2 linked regions of the Homo sapiens genome follow. The protein of the gene in region 1 interacts with the protein of each later gene in a pairwise test. Each region holds a gene or a part of one and is shown on either strand. Other genes may lie near its edges.

Region 1 (13,625 bases):
CGCTCAAAATCACTGATCACCACAGAAGTGCAAATTAAACCTACTATGAAATATCATCTCACCCCAGTTAAAATATTTTTTTATCAAAAAGACAGGCAATAATGAATGTGGGTGAAGATGTGGAGAAAGAGAAATCCTCATACAATATTGGTGGGAATGTAAATTAGTACAGCCACTATAAAAACAGTATGAGGTTCCTCAACAAACTAAAATAGAACTACCATATGATCCATCAACCCCACTGCTAAGTATACACCCAAAAGGAAGAAAATTAATATATCAAAGAGATATCTATACGCCCATGTTTATTGCAGCACTATTCACAATAGCCAGGATTTGGAATCAACCTAAGTGCCCATCAACAAATGAATGGATAAAGAAAATGTGGTACATATACACAGTGGAATACTTTTCAGTCATAAAAAAGAATAAGATTCTGTCATTTGCAATGACGTGGCTGGAACTGGAGGACATTATGTTAAGTGAAGTAAGCCAGGCACAGAAAGACAAACTTCACATGTTCTCACTCATTTGTGGGAGCTAAATTTAAAACAATTGAACTCATGGAGACAGAGAGTAGGAGGATGGTTACCAGAGGCTGGGAAGTGTAGTGTGGGCAGGGGTAGGAAAAAGGGATGGTGAGTAGGTACAAAAATTACTTAGATACAATGAATATGATTTCGTATTTGATAACACTAAAGGGTGACTACAGTCAGCAATAATTTGTTACACATTTTGGAATAACTGAGGGGGTATAATTGAAATGTTAGTAACACAAAGAAATGATGAATTCTTAAAGTGATGGATTTACCCTGATGGGGTTATTACACATTATGTGCCTGTAACAAAATACCTCATGTACTCCATCAATATATACACCTACTATGTACCCATAAAAATTAAAAATAAAAAAAGTTAAAAATATAAAATAAAATATAAATGACATAAGGTTGATCACCTTTAAAAAAAAAGTTGCCAGAAAAAACAGTGGGACAAAGATAATATTAACACTGATTTATCATCAGAGACAAGTCAGCCAGAAGAAAATAGAACAAGATTTTCAAGGTCTTGAAAGAAAAAAACTGTCAACCTATAACTGTATATCCAACACATATATTCCTCAAAACACAAAATAGAAATACATTTTTTAGACAAACAAAAACAGAGAATTTGTTGCCAGCAGATCTACTCTACAAGAAATATTTTAAAATTTCCTCAGGCTGAAAGAAAATGATATCACATGTATCACATAGAGACATAGTCCTAGACAAAGGAATGAAGAGTTTCAGAAGTGGTAAACATTTATGTATACGTAAAAGATTTTTCTCCTCATTTTTTAATCTCCTTAAGAGGTAATTGACTGTCCTAAACAAAATACTAACAATGCATATATTTAAAGAAACTTATAACCTATTTCCTCCTCTCTATCCTTTAAGTAAGCTATTGTTACAATTATCATACATTTTATCTAAATGTTTTACAAATATGAATACACACACACTATGGAGGCTGCAGGAAATATTGACCTTGGCAAACTAGAATTACCTAAAAGCATTCGTTGTTTTAGGGCAGTAATGGTTAAGAACTTGGGCTTGGGGCCAGTCACAGTGGCCAGTCACAGTGGCTCATGCCCAGCCCCTTTAGGAGGCTGAGGTGGAAGGGTTGCTTGAGGCCAGGAGTTTGAGACGGGCTTGGGCAATATAGTGAGACCTTGTCTCTACAAAAAATTGAAAAATTAGCCAGATATGGTGGCATGTGCCTGTAGTCCCAGCTAATATACAAATATACAAAGCAAATATACATGGCTTTGTATCTAAATGGAACCTCTTGAGTGCTTTCTATCCTTACTACCACTGAAGGTGAAATTGCTGCTGCTTTAGCGGACTAGAACTGGCTTCTCTTATTGGATTGTGGTAGCCAAGCACTGTGTGTGTGTGTACATATGTTTGTCTGTAGGATAAATAATACTTTGTAGTTTGGTATTGGAATTCTCTGCTTACTGACACTTGGCTTAAGCCTTCTTTCTCCCTGAGGTCTCATCTTAGTAGAAATTAATGTTTGCCCTTTTTGTTCGACAGAATCAGGAGTTGGAAGAACATCCAGTAATGGGTACACAGAAATGGAGCAGGGAGAAAGAAGGAGAAGACGGAGAATAACAGAGTGCCTGAGGCATGCAGACGATTCAGGAAGGGACTAACATTAGGTCTGAGTTATATGTAGGTATTCACGTTGCAAATTGCCTATGAACAGCCTCCATTCCCTGTGGGACCCAGCTGAGACCCATACTTTGGACAGCAGAATTGAGTTAGGAAGAGATCAGAGCTGTAGACACTGGAGTACGACTGCTGTCATAGCAGATTAGGACAGAGGTTGGATTCTGTTAATAGCATTATAAAAATTGTTTTTCTTATTTATTTCACAGCATTTTACTCTAGGAAAGTTAAGATGCTAGAGAGACACCATAAGCCTAGTGCACATCACACAGTTGTGTGGAAAGTCATCATGAGTATTGCCATCGCAATGGTCTCAGCGTTCAAAGGAGAACGTTGAGTGAAAGAAACTATGCTCTAATGAGGTCCTCTCAGAAACCAGCAATCCTGGCAATTCAGCTCTCTGGGCAAATAATAGAGCAGAGTCATCAGGACCACCCACCTAGGCGTCTGATGATCCTGGGTTTCAATCCTACCTGGGCCCTTCACTATCAGTTTGACTTTGGGCAACTGGTTTAACATCTCTGAGCCTCAATTTTCTCATCTATAAAATGAGGATGATAAAATGCATACTGTTTAAAAAAGAGTACTTACTGTCGGGTACTCTACAAGTATTATCTCATTTTATCCTCGCAACAGCTAGATACTATTATTATTCTATTTTATAGGTGTGAAAACAGAGGCTCAGAGCAATGGGCTGTCATGTGTCGGAAGTCACAAGGCTGGTTAAGTGGTACATCCAGGAATGGACCCTGGGCATTCTGATTCCAGAGCCCTGCTTTTAACTATTAAGCAAAACTGCTGGATAAAGCTCTCCTGAGTATCAAATAAGCTGATGAGCTCAATAGTGCCTGGCACATTTTGATTCTTTCATAAATGGTAATTATCAAAATGAGAGTTGAGTGCAATCCAGATCCCAAGTTATGACAAATCTGGGGTTAACGTGAATTCTGTAGCAACACCCAGGGCCAACTCTAAAGCTCAGGCATCCTCACTCTCAGATAATCTATAAACAGAAAGTTCTCATAGAAAAATACAAGTTCCCTGGGGTGTCAGAAATCGTTTATACAGAAGGTGCCTTTTGCAGCATGGGAACAGATCAGAGAGTAGGAAAGCAAGGAAGAACTGGAGAATGTCCTGGCCCCATCGTCAGAGCTCCCTTGAAAGGGAGCATCCTGACTTCCAGCCCAATCTGTCCAACAGGAGAGAACAGAAAGCTGGGAACTAAACGAGTGCCACACCCCTGGCTCATGGATTTTGCAGGATGCTAGGTAATGCTAGCATCATTTCTTCATTTCTCCATCATCTCCCTCCCCATCCCGATCACGTCCTCGGCCTTGTCTCTTTTGTTCCCAACTCCACCACTGCCAAGAACTGTACGTGGTCCAAAGTGGGCACTCAAACAACACTAGCTGAATGCATTACATGAAAAATGGTATGAAGATAAAGATAAACATATTAGGGATCAGAATGGAAAATTGTCATGCCTTTTTAAAGATGAAACACAGGACTTCAAAGAAACTTCAAAAATCTGGTAAGGGCTTTAAACTGTCTACAGAGATTAAAGTTCAAACTCTCAGAAATGTTTTCCCTGGCATTTTTAACCCCTTAAAAATTTTAATAAAATACACATAAAATTTACCATTTTAACCACTTTAAATATACAACTCAGTGGCATTAAGTGCATTCACATGGCTGAACAACCATCACCACCATCCATCCACCGAACTCTTTCACCATCCTAAACTGAAATGCCATACCCATTAAACACTAACTCCCATTCCCTCCACATCCCAGACCCGGGGAACCATCATTCTACTTTCTGTCTCATGAATTTGACTATGCTAGGCCCTGCTAATAAATAGAATCATACAATATTTGTCCTTTTATGTTCAGTTTATTTACTTAGCATAATGTCTTCAAGGTTCATCCATGTTGTAGCATGTCAGAATTTCATTTCTTAAGACTGAATAACATTCCACTGTATGCTTTATACCACACTTTGCTTATCTGTTCATTCATTGACAGACATTTGAGTTGTTTCCAGCTTTTGGCAGTTGTGAATAATACTAATATGAAAATGAATGTACAAATATCTGTTCAATTTCCTGCTTTCACTTCATCTGGGAATATATATCCAGAAGTAGAATTGGAGGATCATATAGTAACTATGTCTAATTTTTTGAGGAGCCATTCCTGGCATTTTTTTCTGTTATATTATCAGAGTCAGCTCCTACTTATTTGAACAGTTTATTTTGCCTCTCCAGTGTTCTATCCTACATTTATCCTAAATGACCTCTCTTTTGCTGGTCCCTTCTTTCATTTACAAAGATTATTTAGAAATATGATCTTATGTTCCACAGTACTGATTTTTCCCAAAACAAAACATTAGGGCTGTTTGGAACAAACTGCCATTTCCCAAGTCATAAGTTGCATTAGTTTAAAAGGTAAGAATCCATGAATTTTTTGGAAAAAAAAAAGCAGTCCTTCAAATCAGTACCAAGGTACCAGTTTGTTATGAAAGACAGTTTCTGACATACAAACGTCTCACTTAGGAACATCCCTGACATGCAAAGACCAGTGGAAACCAGGAATCTGACTCCTCCTGGAAGTCTCCACCTGCTGCCACATGGATGGTGAGGATCTTGGACTTTCAGTGGTTAGCAGGGACAGGTTAAAACCCACCTCTTCTCCATTTTCATCTTCCTTCTTGACACCAGAACTATGGGAGTGCCATCCTTGCTGTGGCTACCTGGCATCACAGTGAGAGCTCCTGTTCTCACTGGAAGATTGAATCACTTCAGAAGCAGAAGAGTGTGTGCTGGAACACAGCACAATTTTGCATACAGAAACAATGCTCTTTCACATCTAGTCAACGAGTTCTGCACATTCCATCTCCTAGCCACCTCAAAATCCATCTTTCCTCCTTGCCTTCTCTACCTGGGGTCAGAATCTCATCTGGGTCACTTCAATAGGCTCTGAACTAGTCTCCTCTACAGTCGGGATTTCTGGCCCATCCTGCACATTATGGAGATCTATCTGTCACCAGCTCAATATCACTATCATCACCAAAGACCTGAAATAACAATGTTCAGGAGAGACCTTAACAGCCCCACACCTCTACTGGGTGGAGCTTCAGGACAGCCATGTCTTCTGACTTCTAGTCTGGTCCGCACTTTTTTTTTTTTTTTTTTTTTTTTTTTGAGACAGTCTCGCTCATGTTGCCCAGGATATAGTGCAGCAGCGTGATCTCGGCTCACCGCAACCTCCGCCTCCTGGGTTCAAGTGATTCTCCTGCCTCAGCCTCCTGAGCAGCTGGGATTATAGGCACCCGCCATTACACCTGGCTAATTTTTGTATTTTTAGTAGAGACGGGGTCTCACCATGTTGGCCAGGCTGGTCTCGAACTCCTGACCTCAAGTGATCTGCCCTCCTCGGCCTCCCAAAGTGCTGGGATTACAGGCCAGCTTGGTCCGCACTTTTCTCATTGGTTGCCTTTTATGTCAGCATGGCTGTCAGCTAAATGGGAGAATGAATATAACTGATACCATTTATATATGAAGGTCAGCAGTGGAGGGGAAGGAAGTTAAAGGGAATAAACAGCAGGTATGAAATCATCTCACCACCTTTAATAACTGGTGTAGTACCCATTTTCTTCTCTTCTTCTTCTCCCTTTTCGAGGATGGTGTTGAAAGTGTTGAAAGTGGAGCAGTCAGGGTACTTCCTTCTCAAATCATCACACTTCTTTCTTCTTTACCACACTTCCTAGCCATAATCTTCACCATTTAAGAGGAGGGGACTCTTCAAACCCTTTCCATATCGAAATCTTAGAATGCAATTGTGAAACTGCACTTGACTTCCCAGATATTTGAGGAAGCTTCCTGGTTCTTGCTTTATAATCATGATCTACCACCCTTACCATCCTTCCCTGAAATTTCCCTATCTAAAACAACGACAACAAAACCTGTTACAGATATTTTTGTAAGTAGCCTTAAATTCTTTTAAAAGTATTATTATTTTTTTTATAGAGACAAGGTCTATGTTGCCCAGGCTGGTCTCAAACTCCTAAGCTCAAGCAATCCTCCCACCTCAGCCTCCCGAAGTGCTAGGATGGTAGGCTGAGCCACCGTGCCCAGCCTTAAATTCTCTTTTAAGACAAGGCAAAAGTATGTGTTAATCAAGTTAGAATTCAGGTGACCATTTGTCTCAGTTTGCCTAGGACAGTCCCAGTTTATGCCTATTCCCTTGTGTAACTTTTAAAAGAGCTCCTCCTTTTACTCTTAAAAAAAAAAAGGTCCAGTTTGGAGGATAAATTATATGCTGACCCTAGTTTAAAACACACTTTGATTTTCTAACATAGTGTTTTCCAGGTGATATTATGCTTTTGCCCACATCATTGCATTTTATTTACATAACTACTCTGCGAAGCAGGAAGGGAAATACTTGATCGCTATTAAATAAAGGAGGTAATCAAGGCTTCGAGGGGTACAGTGGTGACTGAGGTCACACACTCAGGGCCAGAACCTAGGATTCCTGACTTCAAGTCTAAAACTGTTTCAGCTGTGGATCACTATGTGCAAATGTCTGAGTAAAGGCAAACTTCACTCTCCTTTGGTGATCTGCTTGGCACTGGACTTAGAAGTTTAGATACGTTCATCCTTGCACAGAGACTGTTCTTCCACATATAAAGCAAGCAAAGAGATGGAAGAAGAATTATTAGCTAAACAAAAAGAGGCTGTTAGTGAATCCTGGGCCAAAGAATATATTTTACCAGGTCTAATTACATCAGATTACTTGAATCTTACATCTGGCCAAATTAGGATATTTCCATTTAAGAAAAGAAAACCAAAGATCAATAATGCATGCCTACTCTTGCAAAGAATGCAAAGAACATATAAATGGGTTCTGGTCAGTCTTATAGATATATTTTCCTATAATTACACACTAATTCTTTCTTAAAAATATTTCCCAAAACAGCAAAATTCTACCCTCCTTGGTAAGCAGCAAAGGGACAACACGGGAAACAAAACAAAACAAAACAAAACAAAACAAAACATAAAAACCCTAGACCATTTAAAGACAAGCATGGTGCTTTGTAAAATCTTCGGGGTATCACAGAGGTGCTGAATGCGTGGTTACATCAATGAAAAAACGCCCACTCTTTGAGCCTCCTGAAAAGGAGGCCACAGGACCCCCGGGCGCCAGGGCTTGGGAACCCAGCGCCCCTCCTTGTCTGTGCCATGACAGACAGGTTCAGTGTGACTTGCCAAGGATGGCTCCAAGCAGCTGGGCCATGTAGCCTGAACGCAGCAGAGGGTTGGACGCCTTAGAGCCAGCTGTGGGCACCACAGCCCGACCAGGGAGGCAGCGGGTCTCCCCAGGTTAAGAGGCCAGCGGAGGACGCGCGCGGTCTCCTTGGGGGAGGGTGCGGGTGGGCCGGGCGCGCATGCGCATGGGCGCCATCGCCCGCCGGAAGAGCGGCAGCCCAGGCGCTGCTGCTGGCGCCAGACGGCACCGGCCGCTGGTAGAGCGCGTGCCGCGAGATGCGGCCTCAGGACAGCACCGGGGTCGCGGAGCTCCAGGAGCCCGGGCTGCCGCTAACGGACGATGCACCCCCGGGCGCCACTGAGGAGCCGGCGGCCGCCGAGGCAGCTGGGGCGCCAGACCGCGGTAGGTGCTGGCTCTGCCTTTCCTCGCCGTGTTGCTCCCGCACCGAGCCGGGTGAGTGCGCGGTGTGGATCGGGCTCTGGTCTCGCTCGGGGGTCCCGAGCGGGCGCCGGCGGGTTGGGGTCCCCGCAACCCGGGCACAGTGCCCGCCGCGCCTCCGTCCCCACCCTGCCCGGGGCTCGGGAAACCCCTCGAGCTGTCAGCTGGGGGGCTGCAAAGCGGAATTCCCGGCGCCCCAGCCGGCGCTAAGACGGAAGAAACTTTCCGATTGTTAGCAGTCCTTTTGGGATTCCGAGGCTGCTCCTGTAATTAGTGTCGGGGCAGGGCTGTGGAGTCAGACTGCAGTTTGGCGTACCCTCCCCTAGGTCGTAGGTGGGGGGTCAGCGAGAGAGGCCATCCTGCAGTGGGGCGACGTTGCGAGGAAGCTGACCCTGAAAAGTGATCCCGGTGGTTAAGGGTTCTCTCCGAAAAGGAAGCTGAAAAGCATCGAGTCTAGAAAAAATGTTCGTCCTAGAGTTTTAGAATCTTGGAAAGGCAGAGATAAGTGGGACCGCTAGTTTTTAACCTTTAGGGATACAAGGACTTTTTAGCAAACGATGCAGAACAAGGCATATCTTGTTAAGAAGCTCACAGCCCCGTCCCCAAAGTCAGGGACCCCTCGTGAAGAACACTTTATGTTCAGTCCCCCTCCTTCGACACATGAGCAAAGTGAGGCCCAGGAAGGTGAGGGCTTTTGGGTTTTCGTTTGCTTTGTCTCCTCCAAGATGTGGAACGTGGGGGTGAGATGGGGCGCATGTCCAGGGAGCACCAGGGTTAGGATCCCAGCTTGCCATATACCGGCCTAGGGCCCTTTCCACTGGCCACAAGTGCTGCTTCAAGCACATTCCTCTTAGAAGTCGACCATCTACCAGGAGCAGCTTCCTGCAAGAAGAAGGGAATAGGCAGATCTCTTTTTAGGACAGTTACACGGCCTGCACCACCTTGTCCTCTGGGTCACCTCCCCTAAGTGTGACCCTGGATTTCTGTTCCTCTCCTCTCACTGCGCTTTCCCCTCCTCCCTTTGTGCACTTTCCCCAAGTTAGAGAGACAGACTCTAGGAAGACTATTCTTGCTCCATTTCTGTCCTAAAGGCAAACCGAAATGATCAGACTTGTGATCATTTATAAATGGGCTGGTGCCTCTAGAACAGGGGTTATGCCAGGCTGAATTGAACAGATAAGCAGCCTTTGAAAAGGTCAGTTTCTCACCTATCACCCTCTGGGTGAATGTCCTTCTGGTGGCATGCCGAATCAGTCCATGCAAACTCTTAAAGTTTCCCCTTTTTGTGAATGGAAGAGGAATTCTCTACTCCCAGGCAGCTCATGGCAAGATGAGAAACTTACGTGAGTGTATCTAAGAATCTTGTGGGTGTTTAACTTCAAAGAAAGTTTCTACCAGTAAGACTTAGTTATTGTAAGGTGACAAGATAATATTTTGGAAAGAAAATTGACATAAAAACACTTTACTGTTGTCATTGAACTTTGTGACACCTCTTGTTCTAACTGCTTATCTCAACAAAGCTTTTTTCAAGTTCTGGTTGGAACTGTTACCCATATGTCTTACATTCTTGGATGACCTTAACAGACACATACAGCTGTCCCAAGACATCTCCTTACTTTCTTCAGGGACAGTGTGGGTCTTACACTGAAGCAAGGAGAAGTAGTTTCTTAGGCCTGTGCCTCACATCCTCTGGAGGGAGTTAGTGATCGAGTGTAGCAGTGGTTCTCAAACTAGTGGAGCCTTTTAGAGTTACAGAGATTCTATTTCGGTGGGTCTGAGATGGGGCTTGAGAATTAATTTTTTTTTTTTTTGGAGATAGGGTCTTACTCTGTCACCAAGGCTGTGGTGCATTGGCGTGATCACAGCTCACGGCGACCTCAACCTCCTGGGCTTACTCGATCCTTTCATCTAAGTCTCCTGAGTAGCTGGGACCACAGGCACACACCACCACACCCGACTAATTTAAAAATATTTTTTGCATTGATGAGGGGGTTTCCCCGTGTTGCCCAGGGTGGTCTCAAACTTTTGAGCTCAAGAGATCCTCCCACCTTGTCCTCCCAAGGTGCTGGGATTACAGGCATGAGCCACTGCACCCAGGAATTAAAGTTTTAAGTGTTACTCAGGTGATTCTAATTCCCAACCAGGATTGCGAATCACCAGCTGAAAGCAGAGGATAGAGAAGCTGAGTAATTTTTCAGTTTTCTTCTAAGTGAGGAAATTACACCATGGCCACTTACCTAATTTGAATAATTTGAGTTACCAAATTATTAGATATGCTTGCAGTGAGATATGAACATGGAACCTAAACAAATGCCTCTTTCAGTTATGCTAGTCATGCTCATCTCCATTGACAGGATTGAAATGATTTAGTAAGAAACTGAGGTTTGTCTGAGTGGAGCCAGTCCTCACCCTCGTTAACAAATCATCAAATGCAGCGAGGCCTTCTAATGTCTGTCCCTTCCCAGTTGGAAAGCATGAGCCTTAAGTGTTTATAGGCAAGAAAATACATGTGTATGTGTTTTAAGGGGAAAGGTCACTAGGGCCAAGGGGGTGCAATTACATTTTTAAAGAGTTAAAATATTTAATGTTAAGTTAAAATATTCCTGGGGAAAAATTAGCAAGTTTATGTTGGAGAAGATACTTGAAACAGAGCAGGGAGATGTTTTCTGTCCTTGATCTTCTCGGTCTGTTCTGTTTGAGGGTGGAGTTTCTATGTAGGGGTTGAGTTTCTTTTAAGAAAAACTGTTTTATTTGGAACTGAATTCTGAAATTTCAGAGGCCAGACCCTAAGGCTGACCACAGCCAAGGCATGTATTTTGTGGTGCTTCACTTGGAAGTCTTCTAAAGCTTCCTTCTCGTGGGCTGCGTGTGTGCAGTTTATTTCTGCAGTATACAAGCACATGGATACAGAACAGAATGAGGATTCTGGCATCTTAAGGGAAGGACTACTGCTAGTTCCAAAGCAGTATCTTCAGCTGTGCACCTAGAACAGGAAGAGGTAGAGAAGGGTGCCTTTGACCACAAGGCCAGGCTGTAGAATGCCCCAGAAAGCCTGTGCATCAGCATACTTTGGTCCCAGTTTGCAAAGTCATCTCACTAACCTGAGGATGTGTAAATGTGTTACCTGGTGTTTACATTTATCAGAGAAGGGCATTTTAAAAAACATTACACAATACTGTTTTATAGCTATCACATTATAAAGTCCTAGATTGGAATGATAATACGAGTTTTCCTACAAGTTGCTCATATCCACTCACCCTTCAGTTCCACTGTGCTCTTAATCAATGAGGGCCACTTGTGTTTCCTTCTTACCCTCAACCCTGTTTTTGTGTTAATTTCAAAAAAGAATATATCCCGCAGTGTGTGACCTTTGTTTTAGGGCATTCTCTGCCCACCCTGCTGCTTTTGCTCTCTGAATGACAGAGGAGTAAGACTGAAAGCAGGTTCTACTCCTGTGTAGGAAACTAAGACATAGTAAGTGGCTAAACAAGTTTAAAGCTCACACAGATTGTCATTAATGACTGAATACTTGATGCCCTGGAGAAAGCACTGGTTTCCTCGTTCAGATCGAGCCAAGAGTAGGGATTAGATGGCAGTTCTGTACAAAGCACTTGGGATCCAAAGGGCTAGATAACCCACACCCTCCCCTTGAGGAGTTTGTGCTCTGAATGGGAAGATAAGTCGTGAAAGCATGAAAAGTTAAATATAGATTTGATTAACAGTTCAAAATAACAAAATGGAGAACCTTCCCAGATTATGCTGTTGCCGATAGTGTTAGACTCTTGAGTCTTTCCCTGAAGTTCTCTCATCTTTCATTCACTGAATATTTATCCAGTGTCTTCCATGTGCCAGGCATGTACAAGACAGCAAGATCCCAGCCCTGGAAGAGCTCACAGACTTGTGGGAGGAAGTCAAATAATCAACAGATAACTGTATAACCCAATTATAACCCATTTTCCAGAAAAGAACACTTTCTTCATAAAGCCAATTTCGCCAGTGAGGTGTGGCGTAAGATATCACTTGGAAGGATTTTTTACTTGCCATCTTGACAAGTGTTTCTTAAAGATTTCTCTCACCATCTTGGCAAGCGTTCTACTTCTTGACTTGTAAGTGAGGATGATTCTTCAGTGAGCCATAGGAAATCCATTTGATAGGGCGAAACGGCATTTTAAAAATGCAGGTTTAAATTGTTATCCTCATCTATGGTTCTTCATAATTGATGGGGAAAATGGTACAGGCCCAGAGAAATGATATGCTTAGGAGGTAATAAAGCCTGTTGACCTTTGACACTGTTCCATTTTTCTCAGTTTCTAAGTGAAAATGATAACACATACACTTGGAAGCAAGGACTAACCAGAATTTAATCTTTTTCAGAAGCCAAGAAGAAAGCACCCTGTCCTGGACTTGGCTTGTTTTACACATTATTGTCTGCCTTCCTTTTCTCAGTGGGCTCTTTATTTGTTAAAAAAGTGCAAGACGTCCATGCTGTAGAGATTAGTGCGTTTCGATGTGTGTTCCAAATGCTAGTTGTTATCCCTTGCTTAATATACAGAAAGTAAGTATTTTTTAACTGCAAAGTAGAAGATATTAATAAATGTGTGTATATCTTTTCACCTGCCTATAATTACTCTATCTGCTTTATCCATCTCATATACTTACCAGTTCCTATGCCCCTTGGCTCTGCTTAATGAAAAGTCATAAGCATCTACCCACAGAAGATTCTACCATGAGCATAAACCACATACCCAACAAAGTGGGGAGAAAGAAATTTTGTTTTTCACCACCTCCCCTTTTGAAAACAGAGCTTTCTTTGTATAATTCCTCTTGTCTTGTATCACCCTCCCTTCTTTCCTTTGGCATAACTACTGTTTGGAAGTTAAAAAAATGAATGAAAAGAAGTAATAGTGTATCCTAGTATCAGAAGTTTTTTTAGAATGGGCTGCTTTCTTACCAGGGCAAATAGAAGATTATAGTAATAATATTTAGGTATTCCTCAAAAGGTGATGGGGTAACCCTGAGCAAGGTTACTTTCGTATTTAGTTTCCTCTTTTGTAAACTAGAGGGAATGATACTGTGTGACTTCTGCCCTACAAGGTGATTCCAAGGGTCAAATAAGATTTATTATAGGGTGGAGTGCCTTGTGTAGAGTGTAACAGTATATGAAAATTGTCTCTATTCCGCCCTCTCTGTTCTCTCCCAACCCAATTCCTCTTTTCCTTCCCTGTTGAACTCCCTACCCTCCCTGGGTTAAAATTATGCCTCCTTCAACCATTGTAACCTCCATATACCTCAGTGTATTTAGAACCCTGAGAGCGAGACCAGTTGGGTCCTTGGTGGCTGCCTGGCTCTTTGTCTCTTTGGGCAAAAAAGGCTACACCCCAAATGAAAAGCTTTAGTCACTTGTCACCAAAGTCTCCTTGTATCTCTAACATGGTGCGGATTCACTTAGAATAGTTTCACTCCATATCCTGATGATTTGGTGGGAAAAGTGAAAACCTGCTAATACCTGCAAATTTCTGTCAATGCGGACAAGTCACACTATTTTAAGAAATGATGGTAGGGCTTTAGAAATTTCTAAGGGTAGCAGCAGAACACCGATGCTAACATAATCATCTCCCCCATTTTGAAATAAAGATATTGTCAGGGGAAGGACACTGGAAGAATGTTGTTAAAATCCTTGGTCCTCATCTGTTTTGACCCATTTTATGT
Region 2 (7,000 bases), on another chromosome or scaffold:
CTTGGCATGGTGGCATGCTCCTGTAGTCCCAACTAGTTGGGAGGCTGGGGTTGGAGGATCACTTGAGCCTGGGAGATGGAGGTTAAAGTGAGCTGTGATTGTGCCACTGCATTCTAGCCTGGATGATAGAGAGAGAACCTGTCTCTAATAATAATAATGATAAATCCCAGCCCTACCATGTACTAGCAATGTGCCTTGGGTAAGGGGCTTACTCTCTTTGAGCTTCAGCTAACTTGTCTTTACAATAAGAATGACACAAACTATATAAGATTGTAGTGAAGGTTGGAGATTATTTTTATAAAAGCTCCTGGCACATAGTTAAGGTGCTCAGCAATAAAATCAAAGCTACTGCCACTCTCAGAGTGCGTCAGTAGTTTATGTTTGGTGGCTCCCACTGACTTTACCTTGATCATTTTTTCCTTTTTGTAAAACAAATGGGGATTTTCCCTCTTAGTTGAGGAATCCAGGTTGTAGGCCCTGTAGGTTGACTAGATATGACTGGTCAAATGCTTTCCAGTTCCTTAATGGTAAGACAGTCACCCTGGCCAGTAGAATGACTGGGAACTATTGTAAAATGTCATAGTCTACCACTTTCGCCTCTTCCTCTCTTCTCATGGGTATGCGATGTTAGAATCAAAGAAGATCAGAGCCCTTGGAGACATTAAATAGCATGGGCTTCCCTCCTCATTTTACAATAAGGAAGCTGAGACCGAGAGAGGACAGTGCCTTACCCAAGGCCACCCCAGAGTTCTGGGGCAAACTAACATGTGTCTATCACATTCCATTTGACAAAACACTTTTTTTTTTTTTTTTTTTTGAGGTGGAGTCTCACTCTGTCGCCCAGGCTGGAGTGCAGTGGCGCAATCTTGGCCCACTGCAACCTCTGCCTCCCGGGTTCAAGAGATTCTCCTGCCTCAGCCTCCCAAGTAGCTGAGATTACAGGTGCCCGTCACCACACCTGGCTAATGTTTTGTATTTTTAATAGAGATAGGGTTTCACTATGTTGGCCAGGCTGGTCTCGAACTCCTGACCTTGTGAGCCACCCACCTTGGCCTCCCACAGTGCTGGGATTATAGGTGTGAGCCATCGCGCCCGGCCTGACAAAACATTTCCTAGTTTATTCTCTCATTGGCCACTCTTACTGGCCCTCTTGACCACATTGTATGTATAGATGAGAAGGCTGGGCTGAGTAAATCTGGGCTGACTAAGATCACCTACCTCTTAGAGGCAGAGCTGGGACTCATATCTAAGTCTTGGGAAGCCAATTTTTGAGGTTTTTCACTTTCCCATTTTTTAGACAAATGTTCTTTTTACCACTAAAACGTGCAGGTTCTCACTGCTAGCCTTTGGCTGTTTGATGGAGCCTTCCTCTGCGGGTCTAGAGGTGTTTAGTAGCAGTCTCCACACTCCTTTGATTGCATGTCTTATCAGCTGAGAGTTTGCGTGCTGTATTAATTATCTATTGCTGCCCAGTGGTATTACCACAATACACATTCTCACAGTTTCTGTGGGGCAGGACTGTGGGGATAGCTTAGCTTGCTCCTCTACTTCAGATTCTCTCTCAAGGCTGCAGTCAAAACATTGGCCAGGGCTGGTGTCTCACCTGAAGTCTAGACTGGGAAAAGATCTGCCTCCCAACTCACAAGGTTGTTGGCAGGATTCAATTCCTGTGGCTTCGTAGAATGAGGGCCTTCTTGCTGACGGTCATTTGGAGACCACCCTCAGTTGCTTGCCACGTGGGCCTCTCTGTATGATCACTCACTTCATCAAAGCCATAAAGGGAGAGAGAGGCAATCGAGTCTGATAGTGAGATGGAAGTTGCTGTCCTATATAATGTAAACATAGGAGAGATGGTCATCACCTTTACCATCTTCTATTGACTAGAAGCAAGTCACAGGTCTTGCCTACCTTCTAGGGGAGGCAATTACACAAGGGCATGAATGCCTGGAGACAGGCAGGGATCACTGGAGGCCATTTTAGATTCTCAGTCACAAGCACAAACTTGTGATACGTATATATTTGAAGTATTTGCATATACTGTTGTCAATCCATATAGGAACTATTAAAGCTTTAAATGCCATAGCCAAGTTGTCAGTTTAGCATTATGGGGCCAAGAAGGGAGGGACTCAGTTGGAGTTGGCCTGGAGGGAAGCTTCAGAGAGGGGCTCTTGTTTGAACTGGGTCATAAAGGTTGAGCACAGTCAGTTAGCTGTTCTGGAAAAAGTAGTCTGCTTCCCATGGCTTTTGGGAAGATGAAGACCTAGGCTGTACAGGGGAACCATGATAAGACGATGTGGACTCACATCACTGAGAACGAGACAATTCGAGCCCAGCTGGAGAGGGACAGAGGTAGAGAACACAATGGCAACAGTTTCCTGGGTCTCTCTTTTGGCCCAAAGTACCTGACATCGCCATGTTGAGGGTCTCTCTCAACCTGCCCCTGAGCTAGGACTTAAGTTATTTCATTTCATTTTGGTTGTAAAGGCCTTCAGAGAGTCAGAGCAGCATCTGAGAAGAGCCTGCCCCTCAGGGCCCTTGAAGACTTAGCAGACTGGTGTACACAGATTTGACGCCTCTGCGCTTTGCTCAGATCTATGAACTTGGCTGTTAGAGCCTCCATTTGGGTGTCAAGTCTCCAAATGAGGTAGTGATGAACAGCTTCTTTGCAGCCTCCCTGGCAGAAGCATCAATTGCTTTGCTGATAGAGAGGCTGTCCAGAGCCCTGAATGCTGCTGATTTACGAGCTGGCTGTGCCTTCTACTGTCATCTCTGGACTCCCAGCTTTCACTGAAAAATAAAGGCTTCTAATCTCACCAGTAACCTACCTTCCCCATGTAAATCTGTGTATTGGAAAACTTAGCCTAGAGCGCATTCCCAGGAGAGCATTGGAAGGCTTAGCTTAGAACACATTCCAGGGAGAACCCCTTCTCTCCCTGGAACCTCAGGATCATAGGGGAGCTTCCAGTTACAGTCATGCATTGCTTAATGATGGGATGCATTCTGAGACATGCGTCATTAGGCAGTTTCATCATTGTGCCAATATCATAGAATATACTTAAACAAACCTAGATGGTATAGCTTACAACACACTTATGTGGGATAGCCTATTGCTCCTAGGCTACAAACCTGTGTGGCATGTTGCTATACTGAATACAGCAGGCAGATGTAACCCAATCGTAAATATTTGTGTACCTAAACATAGAAAAGGTACAGTAAAAATATGGTGTGATCTCATGGGACCACCATTGTATACGTGGTCTGTTGTCAACTGAAACATCATTATGCAGTGTGGGACTGTACTTGTAATCAGCATGCTACCCCTATGTAAGTTATTGAAATAATATAAAGAATATCTGGCTTCCATCCTTCCTTCTTCATTAACTTTTCACATGAGGGCAGTGCTATGTCTTCTCTGAGCCAAGACCCTGGTAGAGCCTGGAAACTGTACCTGGGAAGCCCTGCTTTGGCTTGAGGGCTTGAGACCGCATCCAGATTGGGGTGAGCTTTCCAGGGGCAGTGACAGGTGGGGCTGTCCGGAGGAGGGCCATCAGCAGATAATCATATCGCAGTGTGATCAGGGCTTTAATTAATGATGCAGAGAGGGCTTCTGGAGAGTCCTTTGTCATTAAATCCTCCTGATTGGATACACAGGGTTTGTATGCAGTTATCCTGTCACTCGCTCACATTGTCAAGAGTGTTCATTTCACAAGCCTTGTCTACTTGGCAATTTCCTGTTTATTTTTCAGGACTCACTTGAGATACCCTCTCCTTGCTGAAGTTTTTCTTGACTTCTCCAGGTAGTATTACTTATTTTCTTTTCTGTGCTCTTCTACAGCTCTCGTATGTTCTTCTATTATGGCAGTTTGCTTATTCACTGTAACTTCATAGACTGAGAGTTCCTTGAGGGCAGAGCTTTATTTACCAATATAGCTCCCTAGCACCCAGCAGACACTTGGAGAAAGCTTCATTTGAACAAGTTGTTAGGCCAATCATATAGCATCAAAACTTTCCTGGATTTATGTGGCAGGTTACTTGGGAAATCTTTACTTGTTCATTCATTGAAGTTCTACTCTGTGCTGGTGAACAACGGAGATCAGTCCTTACCCTCCCAGATTCTATACTCCAGTTTTACATCTCATACGCCACACAGACTAGAAGGCCCTTTTACATTAAAGAGAGAAACATGATTATGGGAACTTCTCATTGGAACATCCCAGATCAGACTGTGGTGACATTGGAAGGTTTGGCTGCAGGGCTGAGGCAAGGAAAGGGACAGAGAATGCCCATGCGATAGTGCAGCCACCCAAGATGGGGAGCCAAAAATGGTCAGGAGTCAGGTCATAGGCCAAGAGGTGGTAGAGGCAATCTTCAAGAGGTAAGGAAGTGCTGGCTGATGGTGACATTAGGGACCAACTTTGGCACAAAGGGCAACAGCATCTTACTTTTCTCCCTCTGGCCTAAGTGCCAAGAATTCCCAACCTCTTCGCTTCTGGCCACCCATTAAAAGTTGGCAGCAGGAGAAGGAATTTTTTTTTTTCTTTTTTTTCAGACAGAGTCTCACTCTGTTGCCCAAGCTGGAGGACAGTGGTGCAATCTCGGCTCATTGCAACCTCCACCTCCCGGGTTCAAGTGATTCTCATACCTCAGCCTCCCGAGTAGCTGGGATTACAGGAATGCATCATCATGCCTGGCTAATTTTTCTGTATTTTTGGTAGAGATGGGGTTTTGCCATGTTGGCCAGGCTGGCCTCTAACTCCTGGCCTCAAGTGATCTGCCCACCTCAGCCTCCCAAAGTGCTGGGATTACAGGCATGAGTCACCATGCCTACCTGAGAAGGGAATTTTCTAGTCTTCATATTCTTCCCTAGTCTTGACATTGATTTGGAACAGACAGCTAGAAAGAGGAGAGAAAAACAGAGTATATATTTATGAATATAAAATCTTGAGTGCTTGCTCTGTGGGCCCGTTTGTCCCTACCTTTATTTAGCGTTTCAGAACCCAAGTTGATGGTTACTAAAAGGCTGATCAGGGCTTTAGGTTCTTTCATGCCAGCAAATTACAGCATCTGGCTTTCTCCAGCCACTTTTCACAGATATTTTGTTGGCAATGTTTCTCTTTTCTTGAGCCAGTAGACTTGGGCAGTTAGCCCTTGCCTTAGCCTCACCTTCGTGGTATCATCAAACGCTGACATCTGAATGTGGTATTGTCCTGTTGATGTCTCCAGGAAGGCCTAGCTCATTCTCCCAAGTGGAAGGCTATGCATTAGGAACTTATTCTCCACCATATTCCTTAGTCTTCCCTGGATTTAACTCTATCTCCAGCCCCTCTTTCCAAGTTTCCCTGTCTTGCAAATCCCCAGGTAGGTATACCAACAGTTGCCTCAAATTCATTACATTCCAAGCTATACTCATCCCCCACTACAACCAGATCCTCCTCATGTTTTCCTGTCTCAGGGAATGGCACCATCATTTATACTGTCCCTGACTGCAGAGTAGGTTAGATTCTTTATTACACCCTCGCCTGGCAAGTTAAGATTATAATTAAATAAATAATATTTTCTGTATTTGTTTGCCCTGTTGCTTCTCTTGGTAGACTGGTTCCTTGACAGTTGGGACCATGTCTGTCTTGTTCATCACTGTCCCCAGTACCTGGCACATGGGTCCTCAATATTTGTTGGATTAATTAAGAAATCCATCCAGTCACCCAAGATAGAAACCTCAGCATCAAGGTAGATTGTAGATTCCCCCCACTCACCTTCCACATAGTATCAGTCAGCAAGACCTGTCTTTTCTATCTCTGAAGTATTTTTCATCTCTGTCCTGTTGTTACCATACCCAGTGTTCAGGACCGATCATTTCATATTTGAACTGCAGCAGTAACATGATGGCTTTCTCCACTTCTTTTCTTTTTCTCCTTCCAATTCATCCTATACACAGCCACAGGGGTCTTTGAAAATTTATAATTCTGACCACGCCTTTAACTATGTCACTTCCCTACTTAGAAACTTTTTTTTTTTGGCCCCCTATTGCCCAAATAACAAAATTGAAACCCCCTGCATTGCCACAATCTATCCCTGATTTATTTGTCCTGCCTCATATCCTGCCATTATCTCCTGTATAACCTTACATTTCAATTACCACGGTTTTCCAGGTCCCAGATCTTTAAGTCCCTCCATATCCACTCTTATCTTTTCTCCTCTAGTGCTTAACACAGTGCTGTCACGGAGAAGAGAAAGAGAGAAGGATGGGCAAAGGTAGCTTTAGGATCTGGCTTGGAAAGGGTCACTGGGTTTCCAAGCAAATAGAAGAAAACTTTTTAAAGCATCATCTTTCTTCCAACACTAAGCTCTACTTTTAGCATCAAAATTAGACTCAAGCCTCAAGATTTAGGGAATTGGTGGCAGCAGACTGCTCCGGTGTTGGGAGTTATATCTCTAAACATACATGAATATCCTTTTCTACAATGTAGCTCTTTCCTGTCGGGGTGGGGGGGTGCTTTATCTTGAAAGTTTCCCGTTTTGTTTTTCAGTTCTCTTTTGTTTTTTGGAGCATGGTTCTTTGGGAAGTGGCATCCACTGCAGGAAAGCAGAATGAGCAGAGCCAGCAGAACTGATGGAGTGGCACAAATTCCCAGTGTCTGGATGGTGCCACACTGGCGCCTAATCACCCGTTTAACAAGCAGAAATTAAATGTTGCTCAGCACATGTGTCTTTCAGCTCTTCCTTTTCACCCATGGATGATCATTGCGAGCATGCGCTGATTGGACTGAAATGCCAGGGAATAGGTTAGGCATGCTCAGTGCCGTCCCTTTGCCACCACAGTCAAATGACATGCTTCACTGTGGTACCTTAATACCTGAAATAGAACCATGGAAAATTCTGATGTCCTCTCTCTGAATTATGTACAGACTACCTGGGGGATCCTCTTCTCTCCAAATGTTAGCCATCCTGAAGTAGCCGAACAGTAGAAACTTTGGTGGGGATTAACCGGGAGCTTGAAAAT

What was found.
Region 2: the proteins of SLC35G1 (region 1) and YIPF1 interact in binary tests that used the Homo sapiens proteins (3 or more experiments, as listed by UniProt).

The regions. Positions count from the first base shown.
Region 1 is NC_000010.11:93,886,281-93,899,905, forward strand, and holds the start of SLC35G1 (solute carrier family 35 member G1), read left to right. Parts: upstream 1-7,697; 5' UTR 7,698-7,753; coding exon 7,754-7,931; intron 7,932-12,290; coding exon 12,291-12,471; intron 12,472-13,625. UniProt on the Homo sapiens protein: May play a role in intracellular calcium sensing and homeostasis. May act as a negative regulator of plasma membrane calcium-transporting ATPases preventing calcium efflux from the cell.
Region 2 is NC_000001.11:53,851,798-53,858,797, reverse strand, and holds part of YIPF1 (protein YIPF1), read left to right. Parts: intron 1-3,746; exon of another isoform or gene 3,747-3,797; intron 3,798-6,527; 3' UTR 6,528-7,000.